7 separate regions of the Homo sapiens genome follow, and all the other regions are linked to region 7. The links come from fine-mapping of genetic effects on gene expression. A gene starts in region 7. Each other region holds a variant in brackets. All regions are shown on one strand. Distances are from middle to middle.

Region 1 (4,255 bases), 37 kb before region 7:
TTCCTCCTCTTGCAGGACTTGGCAAACCTTTTCTATAAAGAGCCAGAGAGTAAATATTTTAGGCTTTATGGGACACATTTGGCCCCTGTTGCAAAACCATTCTTAGATCCCAGAACCTGTAGAAACGGTCCAGGGTCGGAGTTTGCTGACCGTGGCCCCAGCCACCCTCTGACCCTGCCTCCAGTCTTTCATCCTCAGTCTGATCCCCGTAGAGCCTGGGGGATCTTTCTAACACCCAGAGTTGACTCTGCCCCTCTAGGGTTCCCCAGAGCCGTCAGGAGAAAATCTAAGCCCATTTGGCCACTGGCTGCCACCTCCCTCTCTGGCCTCACTTCCTACCTCTCTGTTCCTCTGGCTCTGAACTCACCAGATTTTTTATTTTTGAGACAGAGTCTTGCTCTGTCGCCTAGCCTGCAGTGCAGTGGTGCTGTCTCAGCTCACCACAGCCTCCACCTCCCAGGTTCAAGCGATTCTCCCAGGTAGCTGGGATTACAGGTGCATGCCACCACACCCAGATAATTTTTGTATTTTCAGTAGAGACACAGTTTCACCGTATTGGTCAGGCTGGTCTTGAACTCCTAGCCTCAGGTGACCCACCCACCTCGGCCTCCCAAAGTGCTGGGATTACAGGCGTGAGCCAGTACACCTGGCCTGAACTCACCAGATTTAGTGTATGTGCTGGAAGCCTGCAGGCGCGTCTACTCTGCCTTAAAATTCACTGAACACCCCTTCTTTGCCAGCCCTGGGCGGCCCACGAGGATGAACCATAGAGAGCCGGCCGCCCTGCCCCAGCCCTCGTGATGTGCTTAGTGTGCTGGGGCTGTGGGACACTGAATAGGTTGTTAAGCAATTAATTGCTTCACTGTAATTTTGTTAATTATTTGAAGAGATGTCTGGGCTGATTCCCACGACATCTAACATGCACACAGGAGGCCGCACTGAAGACTGGCTGAATGGATGATTGGATGCGTGGGTGGATAAATATCCTATAAAGTAATGAGGTCACCCCCCCATCTCTGCCATGCTCAAAACCCATCTGCGATTCTCCCCAGCATAGAGGATATGCTGGGCTTCCCAGTGCCCTCATGAGCCAGCCCTGTCCACCTTACATTGCAGCCTCCTGGCATCTGCAGCCTTTTCCTGCTCCCTCTGCACACCATGTCCCCACGTGCTGTCATTCCTCCCTGCTTTTTTTTTTTTTTTTTGAGATGGAATCTCACTCTGTTGCCCAGGCTGGAGTGCAGTGGCACGATCTCAGCTCATTGCACCTTCAACTTCCCAGGTTCAAGCGATTCTTCTGCCTCCACATCCCAAGTAGCCAGAATTACAGGTGCCTCGCCACCAAGCCTGGCTAATTTTTGTATTTTTAGTAGAGACCGGGTTTCACCATGTTGGCCAGGCTGGTCTCGAACTCCTAATCTCAGGTGTTCTGGCCGCCTCAGCCTCTCAAAGTGCTGGGATTACAGGCGTGAGCCACCACACCCAGCCTCCTCCCTGCTTCTGAACATGCTTGACCCCGGCCTACAACACTGTCCCTAACCCACCCTGCCCAGCAGGCTTCCCTCAGGCCCCAACTCCTATTGCACCTGCTTAGGGAAGCCGGGTGCCTCTCCCTTCATGTGTGAGAGGAGGTGCGTGTCCCCAGCACTTGAGTCAGACTGTCTTTTATGTCTTGTCACATGGTAAAGAGCCTCCCTAACCAGACATAAGCTCCTTCCCACAGAGCCAGGGCTGTGGGAGGTCCCA[G/A]CCTTCTTAGTCTTCTTGCCTAGCTCCCAGCACTGGGGCTGGCCCCTAGGAAGCCCAGGAAATCTGCCATGAAAGAAATTTAAATGAGCACTTTCAGATTTTTTTTTTTCACTAGTCAATCATGGACTCATTTATTTACTCAGTAAGTATTTACAAAGGACTGATTACGTGTTAGCTACTGGATTTTAGGTGCCTGAGATCTGGTAGGAAACAAATCAGACAAAAATTCCTCTTTATAGAACTTAGGTTTTTTGGGTTTTTTGTTTTTTGTTTCTTGTTTTTTTTTTTAAAGACAGGGTCTTGCTCTGTTACCCAGGCTGGAGTGCAGTGGTGCTCCTGGGCTCGGGATCCTCCCACCTCAGCCTCTCAAGTAGCTGGAACTACAGGCATGTACCACCATGCCGGGCTAATTTTTGTTTACTTTTTGTAGAGATGGGGTCCTACTACATTGCCCAGGTCGAGCTCCTGGACTCAAGTGATCCTCCCACCTCAGCCTCCCAGAATGCTGGAATTACATGCATGAGCCACCACGGCCAGCCTGATTTCTTACATAATCATATATCCATCTGAAGTTATTTTTTTCCTCTAAAGATTGTGTTTTCAAATACAATGTGATGGTGTTAGCAGCGTGGACTTCATCCCCTCTTGAATTCTTGATGTCCTGAAAGCTAAAAAAAAATTAACGGAAAAGGGGTTTGGAATAATCCCTGCTGTTCAGCAGAAAGGACAGGTGGGTTAAAAAGTATGACGCAGTGAGTCCAAAATCTCTTTGATGTCACGCCTCTACAAATGAAACAGATAACGACAAGAAATTCTTTCAGCTTTAACATTTCATGATTACAGTTTAAGTCTAACAAAAAAGTGTTCGGAGGATTCTTGACATCAATTTTGTACCCCCAATTGAGACCTTATCAAGGAGGTTAAATAGCACGTTAACGTCCTCTCTGCAGTATTCCTGTGGAGGAAGGGAGCACTTTAGCCATTTTACACACATTGACATGATTAGCCCAGAGAGGTTAGGTCGGGCCTCGCCAGGTCACACAGGGAGGTGGGGGTAGGGCCAGGCCTGGGACCCTAAGGAATGTTTTTGATTCCTAGCAGTTATTTCTTCCCCATTGCCATATCGTGCCTCCTGAGTGTGTGTCCGTGTTTGTGTATTTATAAATATGTTTTCCAAATAAAATCAGTGTCCTACTGTATATAAAGTTCTGTTTTCTATTTCAAGTGATACTACGACTGCTTTTCTTTCTTTTGAGACGGAGTTTTGCTCTTGCTGCCCAGGCTGGAGTGCAGTGGCACGATTTCAGCTCACCGCGACCTCCACCTCCCGGGTTCAAGTGATTCTCCTGCCTCAGCCTCCCAGGTAGCTGGGATTACAGGCATGCGCCACCATGCCCGGCTACTTTTGTATTTTTAATAGAGACAGACACTTTTTTGTTAGACTTAAACTTTAATCATGAAATGTTAAAGCTGAAAGAATTTCTTGTCGTTATCTGTTTCATTTGTAGAGGCATGACATCAAAGAGATTTTGGACTCACTGCGTCATACTTTTTAACCCACCTGTCCTTTCTGCTGAACAGCAGGGATTATTCCAAACCCCTTTAATTTCTCCATGTTGGCCAGGTTGGTCTCAAACTCCCGACCTCAGTGATCTGCCTGCCTCGGCCTCCCAAAGTGCTGGGATTACAGGCGTGAGCCACCACGCCAGGCATGACTGCTTTTCTTGCACCATTCCTAGCCTGGTCACTTCCCCTCTGTCTCCAATGGCTGCCTCCAAGAGACAGGCAAACTTTCCCACTCTCCAATTTCCTCACCTCTCAGATGGGGGCACAGTGATGAGAGGAAGCATGTTCTTCCACCCACTCTTCCCCACGTGCCAGGCACTCAGCAACGGGCTTTCCCTGACGCAATGCTCCAAATCCTCACAACACTGCTGGGAGTAGATTCTGTTGTTATCCTGGTTTCCTGGGTGAGAAAAGTAAAGCGGGGAGGTGGGACAGTATTGAGGACTGGCTAGGAATCCCAGCTCCACCTCTCTCAGCTGTGTGACCTTGAGGAAGTGACTTAGCCTTTCTGTGTCTCTCTTCTGAGGATGTGAAACACTTAGCCCAGGGTCTGGCCTTGATTATGACCAGCATGTTGTCACGGTAACTGCTGCTACTATTCTTATTTGTTTTTAATGCCATGCTCAGGCCACACAGGTGGGGAGTGGCAGCATTGTGGTTCTAGCCAGGCTGACTGGCTCTAGACTCCCCTGCCCACCACACTCTGCTGCCTCATTGTAATGCCGGCCACCGCTTGTTAAACCCCAAGTTCATACCAAAGGCCATGCACAGCCCTGCAGTGGCACTATCTGTCTTGGCCATCCATGCCCTGTGTGAGCATCAGAATCAGCTGAAGAGCTGAAAAATATCCTGAGGTCTCTTTCTCCCCCCCAACCCTTGTCCCCATTTTGGTACAGATGTAGGCCTGGGGCTGGGGAGTCCTCATTGTTCCATGAAGTGCACC
Region 2 (4,255 bases), 180 kb before region 7:
CATGTTGGCCAGGCTGGTCCCGAACTCCTGACCTCAAGTGATCCACCCACCCCGGCCTCCCAAAGTGCTGGGATTACAGGCATGAGCCACCGCGCCCGGCCTATTTTTTTTTTTTTTGAGACAGAGTCTCACTCTGTCTGTTGCCCAGGCTGGAGTGCAGTGGCACGATCTCGGCTCACTGCAACCTCCGCCTCTTGGGCTCAAATAATTCTCCTGCCTCAGCCTCCTGAGTAGCTGGGACTACAGGTGCATGCCACCATGCCTGACTAATTTTTGTATTTTTAGTAGAGACGGGGTTTCACCACATTGGCCAGGCTGGTCTTGAACCCTGACCTCAAGTGATCCACCTGCCTCGGCCTCCCAAAGTGCTGGGATTACAGGCGTGAGCCACCACGCCCGGCCAAGAATGACTTTCATAAAATGCTCATTGGGAGGGCTTTGCAAAATTGGTGTTAGCAGCATGTTTATAATCTCTAAAGTGAGATACAGATCCAGGGTCTCTGGAATGAATATAACTAAGAAAGAATGAATGCCACCTGCACCCTACCTGCTTAGCTTTTCTTTTCCTGAAAGAAGCAAGGCACAAAGAAATATTCTATGCCATGCCATCATACGCAGCATAAACATCATCGAAACTAGAAAACAGGGTATTTGGGGATTTCTGCATAGCTGCAAACATAAAGATGAGCGAGGGGGGCGAATGATACAAAATGAACCATGGCGGTTTCCTCTTGGGGCTGGAGATGTCGTCTGTGAGGCACAGACGTGAATTGCCTGGTGTTTAATGATGAGCTGTTTACGGGCTTGGATGGTGGGTATAAGGGTGATCACTTTATTAACTTTGAAATGTCGTGGTGGCAGGTGCCTGTAATCTCAGCTACTCAGGAGGCTGAGGCAGGAGAATCACTTGAACCTGGGAGGCAGAGGTTGCAGTAAGCGGAGATCACGCCACTGCACTCCAGCTTGGGCAACAAGAACAAAACTCCATCTCGAAAAAAAAAATGTATATGTACATTTTCATGCATTTTCAGGTAGTCATATTTCCCAACTTTTATTTTTTATTATTTTTATTTTTACTTTTTTTGAGATAAGTTTCACTCTTGTTGCCCAGGCTGGAGTGCAATGGCACAATCTCGGCTCACCGCAACCTCCGCCTCCCAGATGCAAGCAATTCTCCTGCCTCAGCCTCCTGAGTAGTTGGGATTACAGGCGTGAGCCACCACACCTGGCTAATTTTATATTTTTAGTAGAGATGGGGTTTCTCCATGTTGGTCAGGCTGGTCTCGAACTCCTCACCTCAGGCGATCCGCCCACCTTGGCCTCCCAAAGTGCTGGGGTGACAGGCATGAGCCAACATGCCCGGCCGTTTCCCAACTTTTAAAAGATTGAAAAGAGGCCGGGCACAGTGGCTTATGCCTGTAATCCCAGCACTTTGGGAGGCCAAGGCAGGCAGGTCACTTGAGGTCAGGAGTTTGAGACCAGCCTGGCCAGCGTGGTGAAATCTCGTCTCTACTAAAAATAGAAAAATTAGCTGGGCGTGGTGGTGGGTGTCTGTAATCCCAGCTACTCGGGAGGGTGAGGCAGGAGAATCACTTGAGCCCAGGAGGCAGAGGTTGCAGTAAGTCGAGATTGCCCCACTGCTCTCCAGCCTGGGTGACAGAGCAAGACTCTGTCTCAAAATAAATACATACATAAATAAAATAAAAATAAAAATAAGACATTAAATAGTGCTCATTGTGGAAAGTGAATCTATGTGCCCTTAGTAAAGAAGATGAGAAGAATGGAGGTGGCAGGGAAGTTGACAGAATAGGGCACATTAGACTGA[C/T]AAAGTCATAACAAGTAACCCAAGTTGGTACCAGAAAGACCACATACTCTGACCATAATGCAGTTGAACAGTGACCAATAAGACAAAAATGGTATCATGGAGTATATGAATCCCAAGTCTAAATTGAATGAGGCTCAAAGAAGGCTTCACATTGAAAATGAGACCACGTGTATGTGAGTTATAATGAACCTGCTATATACCAACATTTATGTGGCAGAGCTGGGAGTGTGCAAAGAGGGATATCCTTCATCTTGTAGCATTTTTTTTTTTAGAAAGGAAAAACTGGAAAATCATGAACATTTACAGTGTTTCAGTCCTACTGTGCGCTCATTGTGCCTAAGTGAAAGGCTGGACCTGAAAGCTTTCTTTTTTTTTTTGAGACAGGGTGTCACTTTGTCACCCAGGGTGGAGTGCAGTGGTGCAAACACAGCTCACTGCTGCCTCAAGCTCCCAGGCTCAAGCGATCCTCCTGCCTCAGCTCCCCAGGTAGCTGGGACTACAGGCATGTGCTACCACTCCTGGTTAATTTTTGCATTTTTTTTTTTTTTTTTGTAGAGATGGGGTTTCTCCATGTTGCCCAGGCTGGTCTCAAACTCCTGGACTCAAGCAATCCCCCACCTTGGACTCCCAAAGTGCTAGGATTACAGGTGTGAGTCACTGCACCAGGCCTTGAAAGCTTTCTTATTTTTATTCCAGTTGTAGCCTCCCTTCAGGATGTGGATTCACATGCAACATGAGTGGTAAGTGTTTAAAGAGGTCTTTCCTACTTTTTTTTTTTTTTGAGACGGAGTCTCGCTCTTTCCCCCAGGCTGGAGTGCAGTGGCTCCATCTCGGCTCACTGCAAGCTCCACCTCCCAGGTTTACACCATTCTCCTACCTCAGCCTCCCAAGTAGCTGGGACTACAGGCACCTGCCACCACGCCTGGCTAATTTTTTTTGTATTTTTAGTAGAGACGGGGTATCACCGTGTTAGCCAGGATGGTCTTGATCTCCTGACCTCGTGATCCGCCCGCCTCGGCCTCCCAAAGTGCTGGGATTACAGGCATGAGCCACCGCGGCCGGCAGGTCTTTCCTACATTTTTTATTTCCGTAAGGAGTCTCTGCAGTGTGAGTTCTTGTATGAACCATGAATTTGAGACCACGCTGAAGGCTTTGTCATATTCCTTTTAGATTCGCAGTTTCTCTCCAGGGTGAGAACAAATGTCTACTCAAGATGAATGAAGATGAAAGGCTTTCTGTAGACTTTACCTTCACAGGGTTTTTTTTCACATTTCTGTAAGATACGAGAGTTCAGGGAAGATGTTCTCACTCATGCTAACCCCTTGAGCTCCCTTCCAATATGTCCTCCTCACATGTTTGGTACAGTCAGAAAATTAATGAAAAATTTTCCACCTTCCTTTCATTCACAGGGCTTCTCATCTTTGTGAGTCTTAAGATGTTTTTTAAGTCCTGACGACTTTGCAAAGTCTTTTCCACATGTCTTACATTTATAGGGTTTCTCTCCAGTGTGGCTCCTTATATGTGTATATTTTGAGGACTCCCGAATGACTTTCCCACATTCTTCACATTCGTAGGGCTTCTTCTGCACAACATGCTTTCTTAAATGTTTATTAAGGTGTAAGGAATATCTAAAGGCTTTCCCACATTTCCCACATTCATACGGTTTCTCTCCAGTGTGAATTTTCATATGTCTCATAAGGAATGACTGATAAAAAAAGGCTCTCCCACATTCGGGGCATTTATGGGTTTTCTCTCCAGTGCAATGACTCTTGTGTGAACCGGAATTTGGAGCGTTGGCAGAGGTTGCCCCAGTTTGACAATCCTTCTTGTTTGTCTCTGCGGTATACAACTGCATCTGCATGGCGTGAATTGAGTTATTTCTGGAGGTGTTCTCGCACTGAGTAAAATCATACATTTTCTCTCGACCATGAGTGTTGTGTGCCCTAAGGGATCCGTCTTCACGGAAAGCTTTTCCAAATGGATTCCGCTGGTGCCTGTTGGCCCCCGTATCAATTTCATCACGTATATGATGCACAGTGTTCTGACTGCCAGTCCATGTGCTTGATTTCAGCTCTGTTTTTCTCCCACACGGAACCCACTGAATGTTCCACCCCAAGACTCCATCGTCTTCGTTGTTTTCATGTGTTTTTTGACTATCGTTTAAGACAGGATTATACTTGAAAATACTTGAGTCACGTGTTAGGATACATTGTCTTATGGAATCTCCCTGTGAAGGCACAAGCCTGCAGGTAGGTTTAGAGTGGTTCCTCATTTCATGATCTTCACAAATGCTAACAGGAGATTCATCTTTCTCAGGGGCAACTGCAGGTGGCTTCACATTATTCACCCCCTGCCTGTGTGGTTCCTCTGTTTTGGGGCATCTCCAGTCTTCTCTTAATGTGGAGTGCTGGGAACTGATGCTCGTGAGAC
Region 3 (4,255 bases), 76 kb before region 7:
CAACATGATGAAACCCCATCTCTACTAAAACACACACACACAAAATTAGCCAGGCCTGGTGGCGCACGCCTGTAGTCCCAGCTACTCAAGAGGCTGAGGCACAAGAATCACCTGAACCTGGGAGATGGAGGTCGTGCTGAGCCAAGATTGCGCCACTGCACTCCAGCCTGGGAGACAGAGCGAGACTCCATCTCAAAAAAAAAAAAAGGTATTAACACCTCCCTGGGTGAAGTCGCCCCCCAGTCTTGCCCTTAAATCATGCCTTGTGGCTTTGGGCGCATCCTTCTTGTCTGATCCCCTCCAAAGATCAAGAGAGCAACCCAACTCAGGAAGTGCAGGCACTTTTTACAAATAATCCTTCCTTTGGAAGACTGCTGGGAAGTGGAAAGACTGATTGTTGCTTGACCTAGGCTTGGGATGAAAATTTAAAGCTTGCTGTCTGTCTGTCTATCTATCTATCTATCTATCTATCTATCTATCTATCTATCTATCTATTTAAAGGGTCTCACTCTGTTGTCAAGGCTGGAGTACAGTGGTGTGATCATAGCTTACTGCAGCCTGAAGCTCCTGGGCTCAAGCAACCCTCGTGCCTCAGCCTCTTGAGTAGCTGGGACTACAGATGCATGCCACCATGCCTAATTTTTTTTTTTTTAATTTTTTGTAGAGACAGGTGCTCGTTATGTTGGCCAGGCTGGTCTTGAACTCCTGGGCTCAAGTGATCCTCTCGCTTCGGCCTCCCAAAGTGCTGAGATTACAGGTGTGAGCCATCGCACCTATTATATTATCAATATTACATGTTATGCGTTACATATTATAATATTAATATAATATATAATATTATATTATATAATATATAATATATATAATATTATATATAATATATATAATATAATATAATAATAATATAATATATAATATATATAATATAATATAATATATTATAATATAATATATAATATATATAATATATATAATTAATATATAATATATAATATATATAATATAATATAATATATAATTATAATATATAATTAATATAATATATTAATTATTACATTATACTGTTATATTACTACTGTATTATTAACATAATAATATAGAACTCTTTCATTAGATTTTATAAGTGAAAAAAAGGTGAAATTTCTGTGTAAAAGTGATGGATTGAACACCTCTCTAGTTTCACTCTCTCTTGAACCTCAATTACATCTTTTTTTTAAAATGGCTTTTTTTTTTTTTTAAATCAGAGGCAATATGATAGGGACAGAACTTTGGAAACTGGAAAGCAGCTGGACATGCTAATCCCACCCCACCCCTAAAAACCCATGAATCCTAAGCCAGCAATTGAGGGATGCTGAGAACCGGTAGCAAAGTCCTCAAAAGGAGCTGGCAACACCAGGCCAGTTTTGCAGAAGGCAAAATAAAGACGAACTGAGGGCTGTTTCAGCAGCAGCTAGACCTCCAAATCTCGTTTCCCCTCTCCCCTTACTCTTCCCCCACCCCCAGTGACTGGGGGTTTATTCTGTAGACAGGGTGAAACAGAAAGGGGCCGCTGGCTTTGGGGACATCTGGCCCATCTGAAGATGAGGGAGGGGGATTCTGAACCCCAAGTGGGTACTGAGTGCGTCTTGCTGGCTGAATGCCTGACAGCTCCCTGCCTCTGCCCCTGCAGCTCCCAGAAGCTGGCAGCCTGGCCCTGGCAGCCTGGCCTTCACCCCCCGCCAGGAGGCCAGAGGAGTTTTCTCAGGGGGATTTGACCAGCCCCAGAGGAAGAACGAAAGATGGTGACATCTGGCACTCCCCAACGTATAAAGCAAGATGCAAAACAGCATGTACAGGCCGGGTGTGGTGGCCCCGACCTGTAATCCCAGCACTTCAGGAGGCCAAGGTGAGTGGATCACTTGAGGTCAGGAGTTTGAGACCAGCTTGGCCAACATGGTGAAACCTCGTCTCTACTAAAAATACAAAAATTAGCCAGGCATGGTGGTGCATGCCTATAGTCCCAGTTACTCAGGAGGCTGAGGCAGGAGAATCACTTGAGCCCAGGAGGTGGAGGTTATAGTGAGCCAACAGCGTGCCACTGCACTCCAGCCTGGGTGACAGGAGTGAAACCCTGTCTCAAAGAACAAACAAACAAACAAA[CAAAA/A]ACAGCGTGTACACTAGGCTGCCCTGCTTGCTGGGGGTGGGGGGTGGCGGGGCAGAAAGAGGAAATAAAGTTAAAAATTAAAGTTAAACATACAGACATGCAAATTGACCTGTATATGTGCAGAGCTGCGCTGTCCAATCCAGAAGCCACTAGCTACATTAGGTTGTTTACATTTCGATAAATTAAATGACAAATTCAGTTCCTCAGTCATACTGGCCTCATTAAGCATTCTGTAGCCATGTGTGGCCAGTGGCCTCTGGATTGGACAGTACAGATAAGAACCATTTTCTTTCTTTTTATTTTTTTAGACAAGAGTGTCACTCTGTTACCTAGGCCAGAGTACAGTGGCATAATCTCAGCTCACTGCAACCTCTGCCTCCTGGGTTCAAGCGATTCTTGTGCCTCAGCCTCCCGAGTAGCTGAGATTACAGGCACCTGCCACCATGCCTGGCTAATTTTGAATTTTTAGTAGAGATCAGGTTTTGCCATGTTGGCCATGCTGGTCTCGAACTCCTGCCATCAGGTGATCCATCTGCCTCAGAGTCCCAAAGTGCTGGGATTACAGGTGTGAGTAACCATGCCTAGCCTGGATAAGGAACATTTCTATCATTGTAGAAAGTTCCACCGGGCAGTGCTGGTCCATAGGATAGAAAGCGAGATATGATTTATAAGCTGCTAATAACTCTGCAGGGGAGGGGACCTGGGGGACAGGATGTGATAAGACTTTTCACCACATACCTTTTTTAGAACCATGTGAATGTATGACATATTCAAAAAGTAAATATTTAAATGTTGCTTCACTAATCTGTCTCTCCTGTCCTAGAACTTCTTCCTCCTTTCTTTCAAGAGCATTAAGGGGCTGGGCACGGTGGCTCATGCCTGTAATCCCAGCACTTTGGGAGGCCAAGGCGGGGGGATCACCTGAGGTCAGGAGTTCAAGACCAGCCTGACCAACATGGAGAAACCCCGTCTCTTCTAAAAACACAAAAATTAGCATGGTGGCGCATGCCTGTAATCCCAGCTACTCAGGAGGCTGAGGCAGGAGAATCGTTTGAACCCGGGAGGCGGAGGTTGCGGTGAGCCAAGATTCCGCCATTGCACTCCAGCCTGGGTGACAAGAGCGAAACTCCGTCTCAAAAAAAAAAAAAAAAAAAGTATGAAAGCAGGTCAAAACACAGACGCAGGAGCCAACCGTGGTTTAGCCGAGATTCCAAGACAGCCTTCAAAATGAAAAGACAACTCCCCTTCCAGGGAAGGCTCTGATCTATGAATGAGCTGTTCTGCACAGGGACAATCCTGCAGAGGGTGGGTTCAGGGAAGAACAGCTGAGGCTTATTTATGTCATGGTGGGTAGTGGAGGAGAGTTACTAGATCAGCAAAGACCAGTGGAGTAGGAAGTGCATGTGTGTTTGTCCCCATGGTGAAGGTCATGGGTCTGGATCCAGGCTGTGTGGGTCCGAAGCCCAGCTCTGTCACTAAATAGCTGTGTGACTTTGAGCCAGTTACTTGACTTCTCTGTGCTTCAGTTTCCTTGTCTGTAAAATGGGGATGAGAATGGTGGACTATTTCCTCATAGGGCTCAGGTGAGATGAAAATGAGTTATAGTATGTAAAGCACTTAGGGTAGTGCCTGGCATATAGTAAGTGCTTGATAAACATTAGCTAAAATTATTATTATGTCGGGACAGAGGCCTGGGCTTGGGCTGGTGGCTTGAATCAGGGCTTCTTACTGGGCATGAGATGAAGACAGGAAGAGTGTGCCAGAGCTGAATCTCGACTTTACCCTGCCTTGGGACCTCTTCCACACACAAGGGAGACAAAGGCACAGCCAGGAGGAGAAACCAGTTCTTCCCCTACTTTCTCATCTTTCTTTCCTCTTTAAACTTCAAGTTCACCCCAAACTTGAAGTTGGATTAAAGCCGCAGAGATTCCTTATGGAGCAGCAGCCATCCTCACTGTTCCTCCAACACAAGCTTGCTCGTGCCTCTGGGCCTTTGCACTGGCTGTTCCTTCTGCCTAGAATTCTCTTCCCTCTGATGACAGAATGAGGGTCCCTTGCCTCTGTTCCATCTCCTCTGCTTCACCATCATTTGCTAAAGAGACCTTCCCTGAC
Region 4 (4,255 bases), 130 kb after region 7:
TGCCTGACCAGTAAAATTCTACAGCACAAAACCAAGGAAGAAGCAATCACAGAGGCCACGCGGCTCTCCTGTCTGGGGGATGAGCCTCCCATGGTTTGGTACCCAAGGACCCCAACTCCTCCCCATTCATTGTTATTGCTCTTCACCAGTGCTCTTCCAGGCCTTCTGACATTCTCTAGATTCGTAAGTTTTGTCTTCTATCTTGTGCTGTATTCCATTGAACATAGAATGGAACAGCAAGTGCAGCACTTTGGGAAGACTCCTGACCCAGCTCTTGAACCCAAACAAGAATCTTGGCCAAGTTAGGATCGTAGGACTACCATGTAGCAGGCTACAGCAATTCCCCACGATAGGGAGGCCACTGCAGCTTTTTTTCCCTAGTCTGTTCGACCAGCTTCCCCAGACTCCTCCCTCCTCTGGGGCTCCGTAGCTTGGAAGAATAAAGTCTGATAAACTATATCCTCCTGCGGGCAACTGCAAGAATGCCAATATATGCTGTTGACGATGCTGAAATTCACTGCTCATCCTCTGGAAAAGTGATCGGGTTCAGGGGACTTCATAAGCTCCTGAACACATTTCACATGCTTTCATTTTATTTACATTCACTTATTCTTTTCCTTTTTTTTTTTTCTAGACAAAGTCTTGCCCTGTCACTCAGGCTGGAGTGTAGTGGTGTGATCTCAGCTCACTGCAACCTCCACGTCCCAGGTTCAAGTGATTCTCCTGCCTCAGCTGCCTCAGTAGCTGGGATTATAGGCGCACACCACCATGCCCAGCTAATTTTTGTATTTTTAGTAGAGACAGGGTTTCACCATGTTGGCCAGGCTGGTCTCGAACTCCTGACCTCAGGTGATCTGCCCGCCTCGGCCTCCCATAGTGCTGGGATTACAGGTGTGAGCCACCATGCCGGGCCTACTTACTCTTTTTCTAATGTGCTTCCTCTCTTTATATCTCTGAAGAACTTTTAACATTTCTTTCAAGGCAGGTTTTCTGGTAGCAAATTCCCTCAATGTTTGTTTGTCTGAGAATCTTTGTCTTTCTTTCTCCTTCACTTCTGAAGAATAATTTTGCAGGGTACAGAATTCTAGATTGAAGACTTTTTTTTCTCTCAACACTGTAAATGCTTCATTCTTATCTTCATGGTTTCTGGAAAGAAGTTGGACATAATTCTTATCTTTGCTTCTCTGTAGGTAAGGTATTTTTCCCCCTCTGGCTTCTTTCAAAAGATTTTTCTTTTAAAAAATTTTATTTTAGATGCAGGAGGTACATGTGCAGATTTGTTACATGAGTATGTTGCATAAATGGTGAGGTTTGGGATTCAATTGAAGCCATTACCCAAATAATGAACATAGTGCCCAGTAGGCAGTTTTCTTTTTCTTTTTCTTTCTTTTTTTTTTTTTTTCAGACAGAGTCTTGTATTGCCCAGACTGGAGTGCAGTGGTGCGATCTTGGCTCACTGCAACCTCTGCCTCCCAGGTTCAAGCGATTCTCCTGCCTCAGCCTCCTGAGTAGCTGGGATTACAGGCGCCCACCACCATGTCCGGCTAATTTTTAGTAGAGACGGGATTTCATCATGTTGGCCAGGCTGGTCTTGAACTCCTGACCTCATGATCAGTCCACCTCAGCTTCCCAAAGTGCTGGGATTACAGGCATGAGCCACTGCACCCGGCCATCAATAGTTGGTTTCCAAGCCTGGGTCCCCTCCTTACCTCCCCACTTTTGTAATCCCCAGTGCCTATTGTTCCCATCTTTGTGTCCCTGTGCACCCAATGTTTAGTTCCCACTTATAAGTGAGAACATGTGGTATTTGGTTTTCTGTTTCTGCACTAATTTGCTTAGGCTAATGGCCTCCAGCTGCATCCATGTTGCTAAAAAGGACATGATTTTGTTCTTTGTTATGGCTGCATAAAACAATTTCGATTTGGGTTTAACTGAAAAAATGAGACTCATTTTTATTTCAAATAAGGGTATTTTTAAAACCTTATATATTATAACAGAATTTAGCTTGAATTATGACCAAAGGTGAATTCTTGAGAATGAAAAGAATTGGGATGCAGGACTTTCCTGACAAAATTGTTACGATTTTCCAGTGCATAGCTTTGTCTTCTTCCATTCTACACTTTCCTCAAAGGGTCATAAAGAAAGCCAGTTTTGTATAAGTATTCTAAGACTAATTCTAGGACTATATTAATTTTTAGGGGCCCTTCTTAATCCTTTGAATTTAAAAATATATAATATATATATTTATATTTTATGTATAATATACATATTATATATATTTATATTATATATATATATATATTTTTTTTTTTTTCTTCAAGCCAGGCATGGTGGCTTACACCTGTAATCCCAGCACTTTGGGAGGC[C/T]GAGGTGGGTGGATCACCTGAGGTCAGGAGTTTGGGACCAGCCTGACCAACATGGCAAAACCCTGTCTCTACTAAAAATACAAGAATTAGCCAAGTAAAAATACAGGTGGTGGTGCACACCTGTAGTCCCAGCTACTTGGGAGGCAGAGGCAGAAGACTCCCTGGAACCCAGGAGGCAGAGGTTGCAGTGAGCCGAGATCGTGCCACTACACTCCAGCCTGGGTGACAGAGTGAGACTCCGTGTCAAAAAAAAAAAAATTTCTCTTCAAAGCCCTTATGGAGTTACAATATGTGCTCTTTTTAACTTTGTTGTATCACTGTCATTAAATTCATACATTCTTGCATCTTTCACAAAGTGACCGGCTTCATTTTGTAGTCCACTTGCTTTGCAGTTGCATTGTACTTGCAAGGTATTTTTTGAAACATAACATCCCAACATTCACAACAAATGATCCACCAGGTGGATGGCAGAATTTCTGGTGTTAATCAGAGTGGGACGTTTGAGTGGGGACTCATAATTTTATAGCACCGAGGATGGTGCACTGTGTTTATGATATGGGGATGTTGCATTCTGATGCTTACCTGGTGATACCTGTTCTAAGATCATAGTGCTTAGCAGACAGGCTATGTTGGAATCACTCGTCTGTATCTCCCCATTCATGAAATCAGGCCTATCATGATCCTCAAAACCAAAATCCATTTCCTAATAGTTTCACTATGGAATGCATACTGAATGAACCCAACAAATCCAGGAAGTAGAAACAATTATAATCCCCATATTTCAGAGAAAGACAAGCTTAACTCCTGATGAGTCCATTGATCTTGGATTCCCACCTGAATCTCATGGTTTCTGTAGTCCAGAGTCTACCATTTCAGCCACTCCCTTTTTGGGTAGCCCAGAACCTAGCACTAGGCTGGGCACATAGTAGGCATTCAATCCATATTTGTTGTCTACATGAGTGGGTTGATGGACTGGCTGAATAAATGCAGATCCCTTCATCGTGAGATCTTCCCTATATACTGGAACCAGTGCACAGTTCAGTGGCATTCAATGCATTCAAATTGTGCAATCTATCTCCAGAGCCTTTTCATTGTCCCAAACTGAAACTCTGCACCCATTAAATAATAACTCCCCATTCCTCCCTCCCTCCAGCTCCTAACAACCACCATTCTGCTTTTTGTCTCTATGTATTTGACTATTCTAGTTACCTCATATAAGTAGAATCATATAATATTTGTCTTTTTGTGTCTGGCTTATTTTACTTAACCTAGTATTTTCAAAGTGCATCCATGTGGTGGCATCTATTCAAATTTTGTTCCTTTTTAATGCTGAATAATACTCCATTGTATGTGTCTACCATATTTTCTTTATTTACTCATTTGCTCACGGACATGTGGGTTCTTTCCACCTTTTGGCTATTATGAATAATGCTACCATGAACATGGGTTTACAAATATTTGTTTGAGTCTCTGCTTTCAATTATTTTGTATATATACCCAGAAGTGGAAGGGATCTGGGTTTTTAAAAACTCAGCTGGTGATTCTAATATGCAACAAAGCTTGTGAACCATTGTGCTGGTCCATTATGACTATTTCTTAAATAAGATGTGCCTAAGGAAAAACGTTTTAATTTCAAGCCACAATGGCAGCCAGGACAATTTAGCTGAAAAACAAACTTGTGGAATGAATAAACACGAGCAAATAGCAAAATCGTCAGTAATAAATGAAATATACACAACAAATTCAGAATTAAAATCATTGCTTTTGCAAAAATCTTTTCAAAAAATAAAAAATTAAGTCATTGCTCTTTCAAGTGTAATCCACAAATTTGATGAACTAGTTATGAACACAGAATATGTCGAGTTATAATGCTTTAATATGAGAGATAT
Region 5 (4,255 bases), 52 kb before region 7:
GTTACAACCTAGGGACAGAGGGTTTGCCATTGGCATCTAGTGGCTAAAAGCCAGGCATGCTGCTAAACATCCTTCAATTCATAGGACAGCCCCCCCAACAACACAGAACCATCAGGCCCAACATGTCAATAGTGTCTAGGTTGAGAAACCTCGTGTTAATGCAGTCCGGCTTCAGGAAGACAAGAAAGGGCATGACTTGACTTATATCATTGAAACCTGCTGGAGTAAACAGCCTCAGGCTTGGTTCGATCCAGTTGCCAAAACTTCCTCCCTGGGAATCTGTCTCTCTCCATTGTTCAGCTCTACTGTCCTTGAGGTTGTCCTCACCCTCAGGCGGGCTCTCCCCTCTTAGCGGTCCCCTTGGAAAGAGGGTGTTAGAGCCCAGTTTCACTGGCCCAGCCTGGGCCACATACCTATCCCTGAACCAGCCACAGGGATGCAGCCTGGATCACGTGTCCACCCCTGGTCACAGGCAAAAGGGCCAGCCCACTCAAATCGTGTGTACTGAGAGAATGTGGGGTAAGAAGCATCCCAAGAGGAAAACGGAGGGGCTGTTACCAGGAGGAAAAAATGGATGGTAGAGAGACCCAGACAAGGGCATCCATCCCAGAAACCTGGGCGGTAGTGGCTTACACAAATGCTGGGTTCCGTTTTTCTCCCGTGATGAGGAATCTGGGGATTGTCTCTCCAGGGCTGATGGTGCCTTCGATTGCTTTCTGTCCACTGGCTTTTGCATGATTTTTCCTTTTCTTTTTGAAGATTAAATAAACCTCTTATTCTGGAATAATTTTAGAGGTACAGGAAAGTTGCAAAGACAGTACAGAGAGGTCCTGTATACCCTTGGCCAGTTTCCATTGTCAATATCATACATTACTATGATCCGTTTCTCACCACTGAGATACTAATGTCAGTACATTACTCTTAACTGAACTCCATACTTTATTATTCAGATTTCACCAGATTTTTTTTTTAATGTTCACGCCTTCCAACATTTTTTTTTTTTTTTTTTTTGAGACAGAGTCTTGCTCTGTCGCCCAGGCTGGAGTGCAGTGGCGCGATCTTGGCTCACTGTAAGCTCTGCCTCCCAGGTTCAGGCCATTCCCCTGCCTCAGCCTCCTGAGTAGCTGGGACTACAGGCGCCTGCCACCACACCCAGCTAATTTTTTTTGTATTTTTAGTAGAAGCAGGGTTTCACCGTGTTAGCCAGGATGGTCTTGATCTCCTGACCTCGTGATCCGCCCACCTCGGCCTCCCAAAGTGTTGGGATTACAGGTGTGAGCCACCATGCCAGGCCCCAACATTTTATATTTAGTTGTTTGCTTAATATTTCTGCCCTTCACCAGAGTGTTAGCTTCTTGAAGGCAGGAACTTCGTGTGTCTGGGTCACTGCCAAACCCCTCAGGCCCAGAACAGGCCCTGGCACATAATAAGTGCTTAGGTAGGCCGGGCGCAGTGGCTCACACCTGTAATCCCAGCACTTTGGGAGGCAGGAGGATCACCTGAGATCAGGAGTTCGAGACCAGCCTGACCAACATGGTGAAACCCCTTCTCTACTAAATGAAAAAAATTAGCCGGGCGTGGTGGCGGCCACCTGTAATCTCAGCTACTCAGGAGGCTGAGGCAGGAGAAACACTTGAAACTGGGAGGCCGAGGTTGCAGTGAGCCGAGATTGCACCATTGCACTCCACCCTTGGGCAACAAGAGTGAAAACTCCATCTCAAAAAAAAAAATTTTTTTAGGCTGGGCGCGGGGGCACATGCCTGTAATCCCAACACTTTGGGAGGCCAGGGTGGGTGGATCACCTAAGGTCAGGAGTTTGAGACTGGCCTGGCCAACATGGAGAAAACCCGTGTCTACCAAAAATACAAAAAAAATTAGCTGGGCGTTGTGGTGGGCACCTGTAATCCCAGCTACTCGGGAGGCTGAGGCAGGAGAATCGCTTGAACCTGGGAGGCAGAAGTTGCAGTGAGCCGAGATCACACCATTGCACTCTAGCCTGGGCAACAGAGCGAGAGTCTGTCTAAAAAAAAAAGATTTAAAAAGTGCATAGTTAATATTTGTTGAATAAAACTTGGGATGTATCATATCTTGCAGGTGCGTTAGGGCAGAAAAATTAGTGTTGCCTCCTTTGTCTGAGTCTGAGTTTCCTTATCAGTTAAGTTAAAGGGCTTATTTGAAATTCTCTGTTATGTGCTGAGATGGAAATGGTGTTAGAAGTTATAGGATGCGGCCGGGCGCGGTGGCTTATGCCTGTAATCCCAGCACATTGGGAGGCCAAGCAGATCACAAGGTCAGGAGATCGAGACCATCCTGGCTAACACGGTGATACCCCATCTCTACTAAAAATACAAAAAATTAGCTGGGCATGGTGGCGGGTGCCTGTAGTTCCAGCTAC[T/G]TGGGAGGCTGAGGCAGGAGAATGGCATGCACCCAGGAGGCGGAGCTTGCAGTGAGCTGAGATTGCGCCATTGCACTCCAGCCTGGGCTACAGAGCGAGACTCTGTCTCAAAAAAAAAAAAAAAAAAGGAAGTTATAGGATACAGCATAGATAGGCAGGGTATTGGTGCTGTTATTCTCCTTTTTTTACCCCCTTTTATGCTCCTCTAGGTCATTTTTCCACCCCAAGAAAGAGGGTAAAGCAAAGAAGCCTGAGAAGGAGGCATCCAATAGCAGCAGAGAGACGGAGCCCCCTCCAAAGTATGTCACAGGGCTGGGATATGGTGAATTTTTTCCTTTAGCAGTCAGGATTGTCTTGGTTGCAAGTGTTCAAACCTAATGCAAAATGTCTTGGGGCCCAAAAAACTTTTTCAGCCAGGTGGCCAGAAGTCCAAGAGCAAGAGCAGCTGCAGGCACAGCTGGATCCAGGGCCTCGGAGTTGTCTGTACGTCTCTGTTTCTGCAGGTCTTGGCCTCGTTCTAGAACCAGACATTCTCCATAATGCAGAGAAGCTGGCCGCTGGCCACTGGCCACGTCTTGATGCTGTCTCATCTAAGTAGAAGACAACAGTACTCTTTTTTTTTTGAAATGGAGTCTCACTCTCACCCAGGCTGGAGTGCAATGGTGTGATCTCGGCCCACTGCACTCCAGCCTGGGCGACAGAGCAAGATTCCATCTCAAAAAAAAAAAAAAAAAGGCATCCCAATAGATGCTGGAGACCAATGGCAACCTTAGGCAGGGACTCCATTTGCTCCTCAGCATCACCCATCACAGGGCAGGCACTCTGGAGACTTCCAGAGATGTGTGATGGGTGGGTGAGTGGATGAGTGGGCGGGTGGATTAATGCACTGATGGATGAAATGATGAGATTTGCTGAGGAGACAACCAGAAAATGTTCATTGGATGCTTGAAAGGAAGGGAAGGAAACAGCAAAGAAACCAAAGTGTTTGCGGGCAGTGCCCCCACTCTGCCTGCTGTAGTCGCCCCTTTACACCCCCATTTCCCCACCTTCCAGGGCGGCACTGAAGGAGTGGAATGGAGTGGTGTCCGAGAGTGACTCTCCGGTGAAGAGGCCAGGGAGGAAGGCGGCCCGGGTCCTGGGCAGCGAAGGGGAAGAGGAGGATGAAGCCCTTAGCCCTGCTAAAGGCCAGGTAGGTCCCCATCACCCTGCCCATTTTTACCAGAAGAAACTAATTCCCATTAACCTTTGGAACAGAGTGCAGCAGCTGTTCAGGAGAATTCTGGAGAAATTGCCCGGGAGAGGTAGATGTGTTTCCTGGTTGTGTCGGGGGCAGACACAACCTGGTCCTAATTGCCCCTGCCCTAGGACCTCGGGTGGGCTCCTTCACCACGTTAGGTCTTGGATGCCTCAACTGTAACATGCAGCTCCTGGTAACACCTTCCTCATAGGGTGACTGGGAAGATGAAATGAGTCGATTTACATACAGATCTGAGAATAATGCCTGATGGTAAAACAAGGGCTCAAGGCCCAGCACAATGGCTTACGTCTGTAATCCCAGCACGTTGGGAGGCCAACGTGGGAGGATCACTTGAGGCCAGGAGTTCGAGACCAGGCTGGGCAACATAGCGAGACCCCATCTCTACAAAAAAATGTTTTAAAAATTAGCCAGGTGTGGTGGTGCATGCCTGTGGTGCTATCTCCTTGAGAGGCTGAGGCAGGAGGATCGCTTGAGCCCGGGTGTTCAAGGCTGCAGTGAACTGTGATTGTACCACTGTACTCCAGCCGGGGTGACAGAGCAAGACCTTGCTTCAAAAAAAAAAAAGCAAAAAAATAAGGGTTCAAAAGTATATCTAGCCTCTC
Region 6 (4,255 bases), 22 kb before region 7:
CCCAGAGAGGATGTCAGAGGCAGGAGGGCCGATGGCAGTTCCACAGATGGCCTCAGAGCACCTGCTCTGGGCCAGGGCCCCCCACTGGGTGCTGAGCAGAGAGTGGTGAACAGGCCCGGGCAGCAAGCTCAACTCTGCCTGCACGTGGGGCTCTATCAGCTGCTGACCTCAGGCCTACCCCACACCAGCTACATCAAAATCTTTGTAGGTGGAACCTAGCCTTGAAAACCTTTGTCTATTTTTATTTTGTTTGAGACGGAGTCTCGCCCTGTCATCCAGGCTGGAGTGCAGCAGCACAATCTCAGCTCACTGCAACTTCCGCCTCCAGGGTTCAAGTGATTCTCCTGCCTCAGTCTCCTGAGTAGCTGGGACTACAGGCGCGTGCCACCACCCCCAGCTAACTTTTATATTTTTAGTAAAGATGGGATTTCACCATGTTGGCTAGGCTGGTCTTGAACTCCTGGGCTCAAGTGATGCACCCACCTCGGCCTCCCAAAGTGCTGGGATTACATGCCTGTAGGCATGAGCCACCATGCCCGGCCAAAAACCTTTTTTTAAAAACTGTATTCTTGAGTGGTCTCCTGTGTAGCCGAGTAGAGAATCGCTGGTCTCGTGGTGACAGATAGGGAACAGGGGCAAGGCCAGACTAAGGGAGACAAAGCAACAGATAGTGACACGAAGGGAGAGCACAGAGACAGGGTGGCAAGAGGAGCTTGGCAGGTGGTGACTCAGTGGGCAGAGGCATCCAGGAGCCCAGGCTTCTGGGAGCAGGCCGAGCTCTCTTTCCAAACTGTGTGAGTTCTAGAAAGGCTTCCCCTATCTTGTTCTCACCCGCCACCCCAGCGAGGTTCCCGACCTGGACCGAATTATCCCCGTGCTGCTGGAGCACGGCCTGGAACGTCTCCCGGAGCACTGCAAGCTGAGCCCAGGTACAGGCCCCAGGGGCGCTCACCAGCCTGGCAGCAGCCCTGCTCCCTCCTGAGTCGGCGTGAGGGTGGCCATCGTAGGCGCCCCTCTCAGAACTTGCAGAGTCCTCTCCCCCACCAAAACCAAATGCTCCTCCCTGGTGCTGAAACCCACTGCTTTTCTCCTTGGAATTTCCCCTTGTGGAGTAGATAGGGTGTAGGTGACACTGCTGTGATAAACAGGAGCCGGGCGTGGTGGCGTGTGCCTGTGATCCCAGCTACTCGGGAGGCTGAGGTGGGAGGATCGCTTGAGCCCAGGAGTTCAAGGCTGCAGTGAGCCGTCATCGCGCTACTGCACTCCAGCTGGGCGACAGAGTGAGACAATAAATAAGTAAATAAAAATGGGCCAGAAGGCAGTGGGTCAGGCCAGATAGAATTTCTTTCTGTCACACAGAAGTGTCCAGAGCAAGGGAGGTGGCCAGGGAAGGTACAGGTGTGCAGCTGTGTCCCAGGGATGACCCGGGGACCCAGGTTCCTGTGTCCCTCTGCCCTCCAAAGGTTGTCACCCCAATGTCTGTGATCAAATGTGGCTCACTTCCCTGTTCTAATTGTGGGAGGAGGGACGCAGAGGAGGGAGGGGAGGCAACCAGATTCCTTGCAAGGATGTGAGCCAGACATTGCACATGCTGCGTGGGTTCCAATCACATGGCCTTTCCCACCTGGAAGGAAGGCCGGGGGCTGTAGTCCCCAGTGGGAGGCTAGGTCCCCTTCTAAAACGTGGGAGGCTTCGTGACTGAATAGCAAGAAAGCAGAATGGTCCTGGGGCCCATTAGCAGTTCTCCTCTCCATGTTCCCCCTCTAATCCATTGCCTTCCCTCTCCTCTAACTCACTCTCCTCCTTTCCCAGGGATTCCCCTGAAACCAATGTTGGCCCATCCCACCCGGGGCATCAGCGAGGTCCTGAAACGCTTTGAGGAGGCAGCTTTCACCTGCGAATACAAATATGACGGGCAGAGGGCACAGGTATGGGGAGTGGGACATGTCCCTTCCACAGACAGGAAAACGTCAAAGAGCAGGGGTGTGGGGTCACTGAGGCCTGAGCTTCAAGCCGGCCTGCGCCACAGACTGCCGAGCCCTCGCTCATCTCTCTGGGCTTCAGCATCCACCTCCATGCAGTGAGTGTGTTCTTTTTTTTTTTTTTTTTTTTTTTTTTTGAGACAGAGTCTCACTCTGTCATCCAGGCTGGAGTGCATTGGCATGATCTTGGCTCACTGTAACCTCCACCTCCTGGCTTCAAGTGATTCTCCTGCCTCAGCCTCCCAAGTAGCTGGGACTACAGGCGCCCGCTACCGTGCCCGGCTAATTTTTTGTATTTTTAGTAGAGACGAGGTTTCACCATGTTGGCCAAGATGGTCTCGATCTCTTGACCTCATGATCCACCCACCTCAGCCTCCCAA[AG/G]TGCTGGGATTACAGGCATGAACCATCGTGCCTGGCCTCTAGGGTGTGGTCTTAACTACCTCACCAGCTTATCCGAAGCTACAATCCTCCAGAGTCCTGACCGATGATAGTGGGAGCTCATGAAACGTGGGCTCCGCTGATGCTGCTGGTGGGTGTGTTCATTTTAACAGCCGTTCTGGGAGGTGCCTACATGACCCCTTCATGCCGTGACGTGCATGTGTGTCCTGTGATCCAGGGCCTCAGGCGTCCTTGGTCCTGGGGTCTGTAAGAATGTGTTGTGTCTCTTCTGTCCTGGCAAGTGTGGGGCCTTCTCACCTGGGGATAGGTAAGCAGGCAAAGTGGGTGGGAGCCACAGGGCTCGGGGCAGTTACAGGAAGTGGACCCCTGAGGAGACCAGCCTGGCCAACATGGTGAAACCCCATCTCTACTAAAACCACAAAAATGAGCCAGTGTGGTGGCGTGTGCCTGTAGTCCCAGCTACTCGGGAGGCTGAGGCAGGAGAATTGCTTGAACCCAGGAGGCAGAGGGTGCAGTGAGCCAAGATCGTGCCACTACACTACAGCCTCCACGATAAGAGTGAGACTCCATCTTTTAAAAAAAAAAAAAAAAAAAGGGTGGATCCAACAGACACAGGATCAGAGATGGATCTCCAAAATAGTGTTGAGAAAAAAGACACAAGATGATTTACGATAGTGACAATGATTTCTTGACAACTGTTCCTGGAAATAATAACAAACATATAAGATGCTATATATGCCGCCCTGCTCAAGGGCTGTGACCGGACTGTCTTAAAATAAATAGACATAGAGGCTGGGCGCAGTGGCTCACGCCTGTAATCCCAGCACTTTGGGAGGCTAAGGTGGGCGGATCACCTGAGGTCGAAAGTTCAAGACCAGCCTGGCTCTACTAAAAATACAAAAATTAGCCAGGTGTGGTGGTGGGCGCCTGTAATCCCAGCTCCTTGGGAGGCTGAGGCGGAAGGCTCTCTTGAACCCGGGAGGTGGAGGTTGCATTGAGCAGAGATTGCACCACTGCTCTCCAGCCTGGGCGAGACTCCGCCTCAAAAAAAAATCAGAATGAGATCTAGAGCATAATGACATTTAAACAAATCAGCACCCACATGCAGCAAGGTGCATGTGCCTACATGGGGAGAGGTGTAGGGATTGGAAATGAAGAAGAAAATGATGGTAGGGCCTTCCAGAGCAGGGCTGGGAGGTGCTGTTGGAACTGAGGAGATGATTCGCTCAAGTCTCTGCACCAGTTCCTCCTCCAGAGCTTCCAGAACCTTCTACCAGTGCAGGTGGGGTCAGAAGAGAAAGCTGAGGCCACATGAGGGGACTCAGCTGATTTCCCCTCCCTTCTCCCATCGTGACAGATCCACGCCCTGGAAGGCGGGGAGGTGAAGATCTTCAGCAGGAATCAGGAAGACAACACTGGGAAGTACCCGGACATCATCAGCCGCATCCCCAAGGTGGGCGTCTGCCACACACTTGCACTCTGCCAGGGTCTGTGGTCAGGGGTGCAAAGGCCTGAGGCCCATCTAGGCCAGTGTGGCACAGTGCGGGGTTTATTGGGAGGAGATCAGGTTGCGTTTGGCTGCAAATGACAGAGCACTCAGTCCTGCGTGGTGTAAGCCCATATGATTTTTTCTCACATCTAGAGGTGGGCACCCCAGCACCGACTTGGCTGAGCACTGATGTCCCCCTGAACCAAGCTTATCGCTACCTCTATCCCCTGCTGTCCTTGGCTGGTTGGCTTTTAGTGCCAATGCTTGTCCCCTTAGAGTTTCCCAAACAGATGTCATTCTTCCAGACAGAAAGAGGGAAAAGGGATTCTAGCTTGAGTTAACACTTTCCTGGACACCTCCCACCCACAACCCCTCCCCCGCCGTG
Region 7 (4,255 bases):
AAAAAAAAGACTTGTTTCTCATAGCTAAGAGTTCCTGATACAGCTCTGCCTTAAAGAACTGGCAAATTAGTGTGCATTTGTGTTTCAATTTCAAATAAAATGTTTAAGGCAAAAAAAAAAAGTAAATGTTGTATGTCAGGGGATCCCCACATTACTGGCTTTGTGTGGAGACCATGGTTCCTTTGGGCTTGGCTCTTCCTCCCTGCACCAGTGCAGGGCCCCAGGAACACATCTGCCACACACGGCCGCCATGTCCCTCTGCTGAAGCTAGTCAGGGTCATCCTCACTCCTCAGTGACCCTCATGATGGCTCCACCAGGTAGGTACTTTTATTCTCCCCATTTAACAGGTGAGGACACTGAGGGGCACAGGGATGTAAGTTACCTTCCCTAGGTCCACTATCTAGGAAGTGGTGGGCCAGGGTTTGGTCCATGCTGTCAGCTCCTTGACCCTGCATCTATAACTACTAACTATACTGTGGAGAGCCTCATGAGCTCCTGCGAGGTGTAGAACCTTATCCCGCAGGCGGGGCAGTGGCATGGTCAGGTCTAGGAGTGAAAAGATCCTGCGATGGTTGGAGTTGCGGGCACTGAAGAGGTGAGCCTGGCGTTAGGGGGAGCAGGGGAGACCATCTTCCCCCTGGTGAAATCCTGTTCTAAAATTGGTGATACTCCTGCCTTGGCCTCCCAAAGTGCTAGGATTATGGCCTCATATCTATTTTTAAAAAATAAGAATTCAAGCTGGGTGCGGTGGCTCGCAACTGTAATCCCAGCACTTTGGGAAGCCGAGGCAGGTGGATCACTTGAGTTCAGCAGTTCGAGCCAGCCTGGCCAACATGGTGAAACCCTGTCTCTACTAAAAATACAAAAATAATTAGCCGGGCGTGGTGGCAGATGCCTATGTTCCCAGCTACTCGGGAGGCTGAGGTAGGAGAATCGCTTGAACCCAGGAGACGGAGGTTGCAGTGAGCCGAGATTGCACCACTGCACACCAGCCTGGGCGACAAAGAGTAAGACTCCATCTCAAAAAAAAAAAAAAAAAATTCAAAACCCATCGAGTTGGGATGACGCTTAGTGCTGGGCTTCAGGAAGAGTAGGCAGGAGGGTAGTATGGGAGGTTTCTAGGAGCCACTCTTGGAAGCGGTGCTCCCCACAGATGCCCGATTGCACTGACTGGAACTCGGTCACATGACCACATAACTCGCTCACATGACCACACCTAGCTGCAAAGGTGCTGGGAAATGTGGTACCCTGTTGGGAGGCCACTTCTGGGCTTCAAACCTTCACTGTGAATGGAGCTCACAGGTTTTCTAAAAATGGACATTAAATGAACCAGAGTTGGCCCTAAGGATCTGGCTCACTGCAACCTCCACCTCCCAGGATGAAGCACCTGCCTCAGCCTCCCGAGTAGTAGCTGGGATTACAGGCACACGCCACCATACCGAGCTAATTTTTGTATTTTTAGTAGAGAAGGTGTTTCACCATGTTGGCCAGGCTGGTCTCGAACTCCTGACTTCACATGATCCGCCTGCCTCAGCCTCCCAAAGTGCTAGGATTACAGGCGTAAGCCACCACGCCTGGCCTCAATATTTCTTTTTCTGGGTATTTGAGTATGATATTATATATGATGGTTATTAGACAGCCAGATGCATAGGAGGATTAGCTAATCTGTTTTGAGGAATACTTATCTCCAATATAGTTATATAACGACAACATTCTTTTTTTGAATACTGGTCTCGGGTGCCTAATGACAGAAGGGTGACATCACTAAGGAAGCCTGGAAAGTCCCAGCCCTCCACGTGATCCCACGGATGAAAATAGCTCCGGGTGAGCTCTGGAACAGCTGAAAAAGCTGGAGCAACCAAGCAGGGCCTACAAGCCGAGGAGGGCTGTTTAAAGGCGCAGGGGCCATTTTACCTCCAGGTTGGCCCTGCTCAGGACCAGGAGGAAACACCTCCAGCCCGCGACCTCCTCCCACAGGGGGAAAAGGAAAGCAGGAGGACCACAGAAGCTTTGGCACCGAGGATCCCCGCAGTCTTCACCCGCGGAGATTCCGGCTGAAGGAGCTGTCCAGCGACTACACCGCTAAGCGCAGGGAGCCCAAGCCTCCGCACCGGATTCCGGAGCACAAGCTCCACCGCGCATGCGCACACGCCCCAGACCCAGGCTCAGGCAAGCCGTGGGGGCAGGGAGGGCTGTTTCATCCCGCTGGGGCGGCCATAACCAAGTACCAGGGATTGGGTGCAATTAAATAACAGGATTTCTTTTTCTTTTTTATTTTATTTTATTTTATTTATTTATTTATTTTTTTTTGAGACAGCATCTCGCTCTGTCGCCTAGGCTGGAGTGCAGTGACGCGATCTCGGCTCACGGCAAGCTCCGCCTCCGGGGTTCAAGCGATTCTCCTGCCTCAACCTCCCGAGTAGCTGGGATTACAGGCGCACACCACCACACCCGGCTAATTTTTGTATTTTTAGTAGAGATGGGGTTTCACCATGTTGGCCAGGCTGGTCTCAAACTCCTGAACTCGTGATCCACCCCACTCGGCCTTCCAAAGTGCTGGGATTACAGGCGTGAGCCACCGCGCCCGGCTAGGAATTTATTTTCTAACACTTCTGGAAGCTAGAAGTCCAAGATCAAGGTGTTGGCAGGGTTGGTTTCTCCTGAAGCCTCTTGCAGAGGCCCTAATCTCTCCTTATAAAACCAATCAGGCTGGGCGCGGTGGCTCACGCCTGTAATCCCAGCCCTTTGGGAAGACGAGGCGGGCGGATCCTGAGGTCAGGAGATCGAGATCATCCTGGCTAACACAGTGAAACCCCGTCTCAACTAAAAATACAAAAAATTAGCTGGGCGTGGTGGCGGGCGCCTGTAGTCCCAGCTACTCCGGAGGCTGAGGCAGGAGAATGGCGTGAGCCCGGAAGGCGGAGCTTGCAGTGAGCCGAGACTGCGCCACTGCACTCCAGCCTAGGGCACAAAGCGAGACTCCATCTCAAAAAAAAATAAAATAAAATAAACCAATCAAACCAAATTCCAGGCCACCCTCAGGACCCCACTTTAACTTAGTCACCCCTTTAAGAGCCTATGTCTGGCCGAGTGCGATGACTCATGCCTATAATCCCAGCGTTTTGGGAAGCCAAGGTGGAAAGCTCTCTTGAGCCTAGGAGTTCAAGACCAGCCTGGGTGACATAACAAGACCTGATCTCTACAAAACATAAAAAATTTAGCTGGAGATGGTAGCATGTACCTGCACTTCCAGCTACTCGGGAGGCTGAGGTGAGAGGCTCGCTTGAGCCCAGGAGGCTGAGGCTGCAGTGAGCCACGATCACACCACTGCACTCCAGCCTGGGTGACAAAGCAAGACCCTGTCTCAAAAAGCAAACAACGAAAAAGAATCCTATGTCCAAATACAGTCACATTCTGAGGTTCTGGGGGTTACAAGTCCAACATATGAATTTGGAGGTGGTGGGGGGAAGCTGATTAATTTCATAAGGGGGGTCTTGAAACTGCCTTCGCAGAAATGTAAGTAATGAGAGAAAGCTAACATGACTGACCATCTTGTTTCTAACCTCACAGGCTAGATTTTTTTTTCTTATTCTAGTGCAGAGGCCAAAATTACCATGAGAGGAATTTAATTCATAGTTAAACTTTGAGACAAAGAAAACTGACCCCCAGTCCTTGTTGAGAGATTGAAGCCACATTCATTTACTTTTTATTTATTTATTTAGTTTTGAGACAGAGTTTCACTCTTGTTGCCCAGACTGGAGTGCAATGGCATGATCTCTGCTCACTGGCACCTCCACCTCCTGAGTTCAAGTGATTCTCCTCCCTCAGCCTCCTGAGTAGCTGGGATTACAGGCGCCCGCCATCATGCCCAGGTGACTTTTGTACTTTTAGTAGAGATAAGGTTTCACCATGTTGGCCAGGCTGGTCTCCAACTCCTGACCTCAAGTGATCCTCCCACCTCGGCCTCTTAAGGTGCTGGGATTACAGCCATGAGCCACTGTGCCTGGCCTGAAGTCACATTCATAAGACAAGGTTAGAATCATGAAGGTGCTGGAACTTTGCTAAAGAACAGTCGTGGGTTGAAGAATGACCTGCCATCCCTTAGCTTCCTTTTCTATATGTGCTCCAGAGTCACGTAACCAGGGGTCGCATGATTTATAACTTCCCCAGCTACTTCTATAAATAATATCACTGTCGTGAAACACAGAACTCAGCTTTTTAGTGGGGTGTGGTAGCTAACACCTGTAATCCCCA

The links. PIP is the estimated chance that this variant, and not a neighbour inherited with it, causes the effect.
Region 1: its variant is fine-mapped to the expression of PLA2G4C in pancreas (GTEx, PIP above 0.99).
Region 2: its variant is fine-mapped to the expression of PLA2G4C in left ventricle (GTEx, PIP 0.99).
Region 3: its variant is fine-mapped to the expression of PLA2G4C in whole blood (Lepik 2017, PIP 0.95).
Region 4: its variant is fine-mapped to the expression of PLA2G4C in left ventricle (GTEx, PIP above 0.99).
Region 5: its variant is fine-mapped to the expression of PLA2G4C in whole blood (INTERVAL, PIP 0.97).
Region 6: its variant is fine-mapped to the expression of PLA2G4C in whole blood (INTERVAL, PIP above 0.99).

What each region holds. Positions count from the first base shown.
Region 1 is chr19:48,145,425-48,149,679 of GRCh38, reverse strand. The region is part of intron 9 of LIG1 (DNA ligase 1); the gene reads left to right. It overlaps LIG1-AS1 (LIG1 antisense RNA 1), which reads right to left and starts at 3,823. Exons shown (of 3, transcript XR_007067281.1): 1 at 3,798-3,823; 2 at 3,562-3,712. The variant G/A (reference allele first, on the strand shown) is at 1,747.
Region 2 is chr19:48,285,848-48,290,102 of GRCh38, reverse strand. ZNF114 (zinc finger protein 114) reads right to left here. Exons shown (of 6, transcript NM_153608.4): 6 at 2,495-4,255. The coding sequence ends at 3,225. Among named protein-coding and RNA genes, the nearest start is that of ZNF114-AS1, 16 kb to the right of the region's middle. The variant C/T (reference allele first, on the strand shown) is at 1,826.
Region 3 is chr19:48,184,180-48,188,434 of GRCh38, reverse strand. All of the region lies in intron 3 of ZSWIM9 (zinc finger SWIM-type containing 9), which reads right to left. Among named protein-coding and RNA genes, the nearest start is that of ZSWIM9, 16 kb to the right of the region's middle. RefSeq lists a silencer at 1-39 and an enhancer at 1,633-1,692. The variant CAAAA/A (reference allele first, on the strand shown) is at 2,140.
Region 4 is chr19:47,982,211-47,986,465 of GRCh38, reverse strand. All of the region lies in intron 1 of BSPH1 (binder of sperm protein homolog 1), which reads left to right. Among named protein-coding and RNA genes, the nearest start is that of BSPH1, 7.8 kb to the left of the region's middle. The variant C/T (reference allele first, on the strand shown) is at 2,367.
Region 5 is chr19:48,160,701-48,164,955 of GRCh38, reverse strand. It overlaps LIG1 (DNA ligase 1), which reads left to right. Exons shown (of 28, transcript NM_000234.3): 3 at 2,605-2,694; 4 at 3,449-3,584. Among named protein-coding and RNA genes, the nearest start is that of LIG1, 7.5 kb to the left of the region's middle. The variant T/G (reference allele first, on the strand shown) is at 2,396.
Region 6 is chr19:48,130,655-48,134,909 of GRCh38, reverse strand. LIG1 (DNA ligase 1) reads left to right here. Exons shown (of 28, transcript NM_000234.3): 17 at 844-929; 18 at 1,813-1,928; 19 at 3,739-3,834. Among named protein-coding and RNA genes, the nearest start is that of LIG1-AS1, 13 kb to the left of the region's middle. The variant AG/G (reference allele first, on the strand shown) is at 2,363.
Region 7 is chr19:48,108,402-48,112,656 of GRCh38, reverse strand. PLA2G4C (phospholipase A2 group IVC) reads left to right here and starts at 1,840. Exons shown (of 17, transcript NM_003706.3): 1 at 1,840-2,170. RefSeq lists an enhancer at 1,865-2,024.